2 linked regions of the Homo sapiens genome follow. The protein of the gene in region 1 interacts with the protein of each later gene in a biochemical or structural test. Each region holds a gene or a part of one and is shown in the gene's direction. Other genes may lie near its edges.

What was found. Proteins that work in one complex are often made in the same cells at the same time.
Region 2: the proteins of ARCN1 (region 1) and COPA form a complex in vitro, tested with the Homo sapiens proteins (one study listed by BioGRID).

What each region holds. Positions count from the first base shown.
Region 1 is NC_000011.10:118,575,387-118,579,141, forward strand, and holds part of ARCN1 (coatomer subunit delta), read left to right. Parts: exon of another isoform or gene 1-1,512; intron 1,513-3,755. UniProt on the Homo sapiens protein: Component of the coatomer, a cytosolic protein complex that binds to dilysine motifs and reversibly associates with Golgi non-clathrin-coated vesicles, which further mediate biosynthetic protein transport from the ER, via the Golgi up to the trans Golgi network.
Region 2 is NC_000001.11:160,336,565-160,340,319, reverse strand, and holds part of COPA (coatomer subunit alpha), read left to right. Parts: intron 1-25; coding exon 26-139; intron 140-337; coding exon 338-411; intron 412-3,755. UniProt on the Homo sapiens protein: The coatomer is a cytosolic protein complex that binds to dilysine motifs and reversibly associates with Golgi non-clathrin-coated vesicles, which further mediate biosynthetic protein transport from the ER, via the Golgi up to the trans Golgi network.

The sequences.
Region 1 (3,755 bases):
AGTTCACTGCAGAAACTGATAACGGGTGTGTGTGTGTGTGTGTGTGTGTGTTTTAATTCTCTGCAAGCTTTTGTTTTAGAATAGAAATGTGATGGACTTAAAACCCTCACTGAGTAAATTACTTTTCAAGTTTTAGGTTTCGTATGTGGTCTACATTTTATTGTAATCTTCTCTCTGATTTTATCTATAATAGCTTCATATAAATAGAAAAGACAGAACAGTCCTCCCTGACAATTATAGAAACTAGCCTTAATATGACCATGAATTGTGTGTGCATGTATATGTGTATAAAATATTGCGGTGAATTACAAAGGAGAAGGTGACTATAATTCTGGAAGTAAGGGATCCTGAAGCATTTAGAGATTCAAGAAAGAACTTGACTTTTTTTGAGAGAGAGTTGTGCATATTTATCCTGAATTATTATACCACCTGTTATTCTTGTATCTCTCTTGCACACACAATTTGTTATGGTTAGACAATTTGCCTTCTGGCAGCCTAATGTTACTATAAAATATTGTTCCAAAGTGGTTAGAACTGGAGCAGTGGGTATAAAATGGAAGTATTGTACATTTTCTGTCACTGTAGTTGTTTTTTTTTTTTTCTGTTACTGTAGTTTTCAAATGCTTAGACTTACAGAACTTTAAAGACACAGAGCACTTTGGATTTCATGTAAACTAACCTCCTATGTTAGGGATATTTCAATAATCAATTAAGTGACTTATCCAAGGTCACATAATTAGTGGCAAAGGCAGAACAGAAACCTAATTCTCCAGGTTTTTTTACTTGAGGCACTTAACAATTCATGTAGTTAAGTCTGTGTAGGAGAGAGTTGTTATTTAGTCCAAAGATAGTGTACTCAAACCATGTAAGAATTATTAAAAGTTGTTTGGCAAAGCTCAACTTTATGAGGGAATTTTTTTTTTTTTTAACCGTCCTGGAGAGATCATCTAACTTATGGGCCCTCAGTTTTCACATCTGTAAGACAATCAAGGGCTCTTGCAAGTTCCTTTTAGATCTGGAATGTTTTTTCCAAAAATGTTAAAAAAAAAAAAAAAAAAAAAAACCAAAAACTTTGTAATCATATTTATTAATTCTTCCTCAGAGAAAATCAGATCAAATTTCAATAGGGAAAATTGTTAACTTACCTTTTAGTATATGCTATATTTTAATAATTGTTAAACCAGTAAACATTAATGTAAAGAGGTTTATTATTTCAAGAACTTTAAGAAGACAAATGTTAATTTAGGATAGGATAAATTTATCATGTTTAGAGGTGACCATACCTTCTAGCCATATTAGTAGCTGTAACAGAGAGACCTGTGTCAACTGCCTGGAACCTGTAATTTGTGGTGTCCTGGGTGTTCGGAGATTTATGCTATACTTAGTATGGGGAACTATGGTCCTATTTTGGAAGCCTTGTTTTGCTTGTATCTGGATAATGGAATGACTCAAAGAGAGACATATGATTTTACCCTACTTCTTTCTTCATCTTGACGTACTGAAAGCCTGGAATTCTGGCCAGGTGTGGCGGCTCATGCCTGTAATCCCAGCACTTTGGGAGGCTCAGGCGGGCAGATCACTTGAGGTTGGGAGTTTGAGACCAGCCTGGGCAACATGGCAAAACCCTGTCTCTACAGAAAAATACAAAAAATTAGCCAGGTGTGGTGGCCTGTGCCTGTAGTCCCAGATACTTGGGAGGCTGAGGTGGGAGAATCACCTGAGCCCAGAAGGTTGAGGCTGCACTGAGCCAAGATCACGCCACTGCACTACAGCTTGGGCAATAGAGCAAGACTCTGTTTCAAAACAAACAAATCCTGGAATTCATCAAAGCATGATCTAAATTCTGTTTCTTTCTTTCTTTCTTTCTTTTTTTTTTTTGAGGCAGAGTCTCACTTTGTAGCCCAGGCTGGAGTGAAGTGGTATGATCTTGGCTTACTGCAACTTCCGCCTCCCAGGTTCAAGCAATCCTCCCACCTCACTCTCCCCGTAGCTGGGACTACAGACGTGCACCACCAGACTTGGCTAATTTTTTGTATTTTTTGGTAGAGACAGGGTTTTCCCATGTTGACCAGGCTGGTCTCGAACTCCTGACCTCAGGTGATCTGCCTGCCCTGGCTCCCAAAGTGCTGGATTAAGGCATGAGCCACCGCTCCCGGCCTAAATGCTGTTTCTTCTATCAAGTCATCCCTGACTGTACCAGCTGGAAGTAATCTCTTCCTCTGAATTTCCACGCACTTTATCGGTTACTCTCTCATGTTACTTAACACATTCTGCCTCATATTACAGTTATTTGTGTTTGTGTCTTATCCCTATTAAGCTTCTTGTAGGCAGAATGCTAGCCTGTGTCATCTTAATTCTCAGAAAGCATGTTGTATGTATAGTAGATGTTCGATAAATAATTACTCAGTTAATTCTTATAATATCGCAAAAATGGAGATTACCAGTACCTATAATTAGTTTTTGAACATGCTCATCAGTAAAGTGGATGGGCCAGGTGCAGTGGCTCACTCCTGTAATCCCAACACTTTGGAGGCCAAGGCGCGCAGATGACTTGAGGCCAGGAGTTGGAGACCAGCCTGCCCAACATGGCAAAACCCTGTCTCTATTAAAAATAGAAAAATTAGCCAGGCTTGGTGGTGCTGGCCTGTGCCTGTAGTCCCAGTTACTCAGGAGGCTGAGGCATGAGAATTGCTTGAACTCAGGAGGCAGAGCTTGCAGTGAGCCAAGATGGCACCACTGCACTCCAGCCTGGACTACAGAGTGAGACACTCTCTCAAAAAATAAATAAATAAATAAATAAATAAATAAATAAATAAATAAATAAATAAAGTGGATAGTAACATACACCTTTTTGTTCCTTTTTCCCTCTCAAGTTGCTTTTGATGTTTTTACCTAAATTTTACTTGTATGGTATAGAGGTGTTTTTAACTCCAGTTGGAAACCTAAGAACTACCCTTGAGCCTGTAAACATTGTTTCTAACAGGTTTATTATTAGATATGGGGTTTCTATTAAATGCAGCATGTTTATATAGGTCTGAAGTTTTGGTCTGAGCTGTCCTTTCTTTAGGTGTTCATTTGATTTGTCTTATTTCTTCAAAACCTCATAAAATTCTAACATAGAGGACCATGACTTCCTAGAGCTATGACTCTCAACCTTTTAGGGATAGGAGGCTCTACAGGGATTACATTTACAATATGCTCCCATTTATTAATAATATTTCTCATCGCATGAGGGGATTTTCTATGGGCCATTTGAAATAACTTCTCTAGAGGATCGATGCATTCCCTGAAACTGTATGTAAAATTTTGGGGGGAGAGTCAATATTCATTATTTGAATATCAAAATATTGACAAAGGCAAAAATCCATTGCCTTGGCCGGATGCTGTGGCTCACACTTGTAATCCCAGCACTTTGGGAGGCTGAGGTGTGCGGATCACTTTAGCCCAGGAATTTGTAGCCTGGGCAACATGGCAAAACCCCGTCTCTCTTTTTTTTTTTTTTTTTTTTTTTTTTTTTTTTAATAAAAAAAGAAAAATCCATTACCTTGAAGTGGCATAAATTTTTTTCATGAGATGCATGTTTATTATTACTAATGGTGCTGTTTTACATCATGAATATATGTGCTACAAGTTGTATAGCACTTCTGAAGTACAGTTTCATTATAGTCATTTGGCCCTCATAATAGCTTGTAAGGTCATTAGATAATGCTGCATTTTATAGGAAAAGAAACGAGGTTAAGAGAGGTTGGGTAACT
Region 2 (3,755 bases), on another chromosome or scaffold:
TTGTATCATTTTCTATTTTTTTCAGGGCTCAGCTTTCACCCCAAAAGACCTTGGATCCTGACTAGTTTACATAATGGGGTCATCCAGTTATGGGACTATCGGATGTGCACTCTCATTGACAAGTTTGATGAACATGATGGTGAGATATTTCTAGGAGGAAGTTAAAGGAGTATAAGTATTTATAATATCCTGGGGTATTTTAAGCCTTGTTTGACATGGATTCCTCTATGATTAAAGAATGTGGAAATGATAGAACTGAAAAATCCTGAATAGGAATCACCTTAGAGATTAGAAAGGATAGCTCTGTCTAACATACATTGCCTGCCTTCTCCACCAGGTCCAGTGCGAGGCATTGACTTCCATAAGCAGCAGCCACTGTTCGTCTCTGGAGGAGATGACTATAAGATTAAGGTACAGAGGGTCTGTCATAACTGAGAATAAAGGAAAGAGGATGTGGGAAGGTTTGGGAATCATGAAAGGAACTGAAAGACAGGAAATTTCATTCATACAGAGCTCAGGCCTTTGACAACATTATCCGGAGAACTTACTCAGCAAACATTTATTGAATGCTTACTGTGTACCAGACACTGTTTTCTTTTTAGGGAATTCAAAAATAAATAAGAAATGGCTTCTGTTTTCAAGGAGCTTTTATTCTAATACAGAAGATAAACATATATCCAAGTAATAGCATGTACAGTTTGGTAAGCAATATAATAGAGAGATATTCACAGTGAAATAGGAAAGAGCAGTATAGGTGCAAAGACAAAAAGCATGACACAGCTAGATACAGGGCAGCTGTTATTGGTTTTGTATGGAGAAAACCTGGAGAAATGGTGAGAGAAGGGGCAGAAGATGAGAGGGGCCAGATCATGGAGTACCTGTTTGTGGCGCTCAGGAGTTTAGATGTTATCATGCAGATAACTAGGAGCCATTTGAGGAACTTAAATACAGGAGTGATACCAGATTTATATGTTTTTAAAATGATTACTTGGTGGTAATTAAAGAAAAGATTGGATGATTTGGGCAAGACAGGAGGCAAAAATACCAGTTAGGAAACCTGAGCTTAGGTAGTAGCATTTGAAATGGAGAGAAGGAGATGGATGTGAGAATTTAAGGAAATGAATCAGTGTGTCTGTTGGGTGATGGCCAATAAGGAGAAATAAATGAGATGGCCAATAAGGAGAAATAAGGGCCAATAAGGAGAAATAAATGAGCTGACTTTCAGGCTTCTAGTTTAGGTCACTGGGTAAAGGGGGTGTCATTAACTAGGAAAGGAAAATCAGGAGGAGATAGTTTTCTGGAGTGGAAGAGAATGGATAATGAATTCCATCTTGTCTCTGGTGATTTTGAGGGACCTAAGGGACAGTCTAGTTGAGGTGTCTGTGCTAGAAATATATTTGTGATTTGTCGTCATGAAGGGAGGAGCCAAAGGAGAAGCAGTAGAAGATATTGCTCAAGGAGTACGTTGAATAAGAAGACAGACCATCATTTAAGGGAGAGAGAGGAAGTAGAGTTAGTATGGGAAACAGTGATTCGAGGGGTTCGAGATGAACCAAGAGGGAGAAGAAGCCTCTTGGATGCCAAGGAAGAAGAGAATTTTGGGAAGGAGAAAGTGTTCAGAATAAGATCAAGATTGAGAAATAACCTTTGAATTGCTTAATTTGGAAGGCCTTAGTGTGAAATGAGGAAGCAGACAGAATATAGGCAATTCTTTAAAGACAACTGACTATCATAATAGCAAAAGTTAGAGCCAGAGACTAGCAACCTATAAAAATAAATCAAAATTTCCTCTGTTTACTTCCTTTAGTTGTTTTCATTAAGTCTATGTGTCAAACCGAACCAGTGAAATTTAATTCATAAAAAGGTAAAGTCTTTTCATAAGCAACTTCAAGAAGTTATATATTGTGATTATACCGCAGAACTTAGGTGATGGGAGTAAAGAGTGACAGCTGCCTACAGAGAAAAGAGCTATTAGAATTATAGGAAGGACATTTCTTTCTGTTTTCTAGTTTTTAGGCACCACATCCTGGGGCAATCAAAACTCAAACCACCTGACAGATCTCAAAAGCCCATAAGGATATCACCTCATTATAGTATTTTTGTATTTGTTATTTATAGTGATGAACATTGAGTATCAAGAATGGTTAACTTGGGATTCTTATAATCTGTTTAAAAAGGAAAAACTGGGTGTTAATTAAGAAAAAGTTTTCCCAAAATGACTAATATTTTGGAAAAGAAATTATCTTCCACTTATGAAATGTCCAGAATAGGTAAATCTATAGAGACAGAAAGTAGGTTAGTGATTGTCTAGGGTTGGAGGGGTTGGGAGGAAATGAGAAGTGACAGCTAATGGGTATGAATTTCTTAGGGGAGTGAATAAAAATGTTCTAAAATGGATGGTTGCACAACTGTGAATATATTAAAAGCCATTGAGTTTTATACTTTATATGAATAAATTGTATGGTATTTGAACTGTATCTCAATAAAGCTGTTATTAAAACAAAGGAATTCTTTATTAGCTGGTAGGTGTGTAGTGCTATCATTTGGTGGGTTTTTTTGGTTTGTTTTTTGTTTGTTTGTTTGTTTGTTTGTTTGTTTTTTGCGATGGAGTCTTGTTCTGTTGCCCAGGCTGGAGTGCAGTGGCGTGATCTCGGCTCACTGCAGCCTCCACCTCCCGGGTTCAAGTGGTTCTCCTGCCTCAGCCTCCCGAGTAGCTGGAATTACAGGCATGCGCCACCAAGCCCGGCTAATTTTGTATTTTTAGTAGAGATGGGGTTTCTCCATGTTGGTCAGGCTGGTCTTGAACTCCCGACCTCGGGTCGTCTTCCTGCCTCGGCCTCCCAAAGTGCTGGGATTACAGGCGTGAGCCACCGCACCCGGCCCATTCGGTGGTTTTAATTAATTTCTCTGATGACTAATAAACTTGAACATTTTTCCATAAAAAGGGGGATTATCTAGAAAAGTCATGTCTGTGGACCATCTTATTGCTTGCTATATCCAGATAAATGTAGCATTAGTTATAATCCTCGTTGACAAAGAGTAAGACAAGGAGCCCAGCAAATGGTCAGAGTATTCATCTAAAACCCCTATAAGTTTTTAAGGATTTACAGTTTTGGAGCTTGACTTAGGCCATTAAAGGAGTCAAGACATTTTGAAACTAGAAATATGAAAGTTTAAAACACTGAACTCTATAAGGGGAAAAAAGTCAGTTAAAGAATAGTGTTTATGGTATGGTCTAATTTTTATGTGAAACTCTACTGTGTACATGTGTATTTATATGTAGCTGATTGAATAGATAGAGGCAAAGGTATTGGAATACCTTAACTTTTCATGTTATTCTTATTTCCATACATAATGCTTACTGAGCACTTACCTAATGTCAGGCACTGTGTTAGGTGGTAAGGGTATAGTGTTGAGCATGATGGACAAGAACCCTGCCTTTAAGGAACTCAGCATTCTTGTTTGGAAGATCATACTTTTGGATTGTCTGGACTTGTTATAGGAAATGAAATTTTTATAATTTACTGAAGAAAAGTTAAAAATTAGAAATAGTAACAAGCTGGCCCAGATTGATTATAAACAAATATTAAAAAGAAATTTAAAAAAATTAAATAAGAAGAAAAATGCATCTGGTCTCTTATTTTTGTACATTTTAGGGGATTTTCTGAATGAGGAAGATAAGCTATTTTATATTTATGATCCTGGTTTTCATGTCTTCAGTTGTGTTCATTGATGCCTAGTACTTTGGTAGTTGA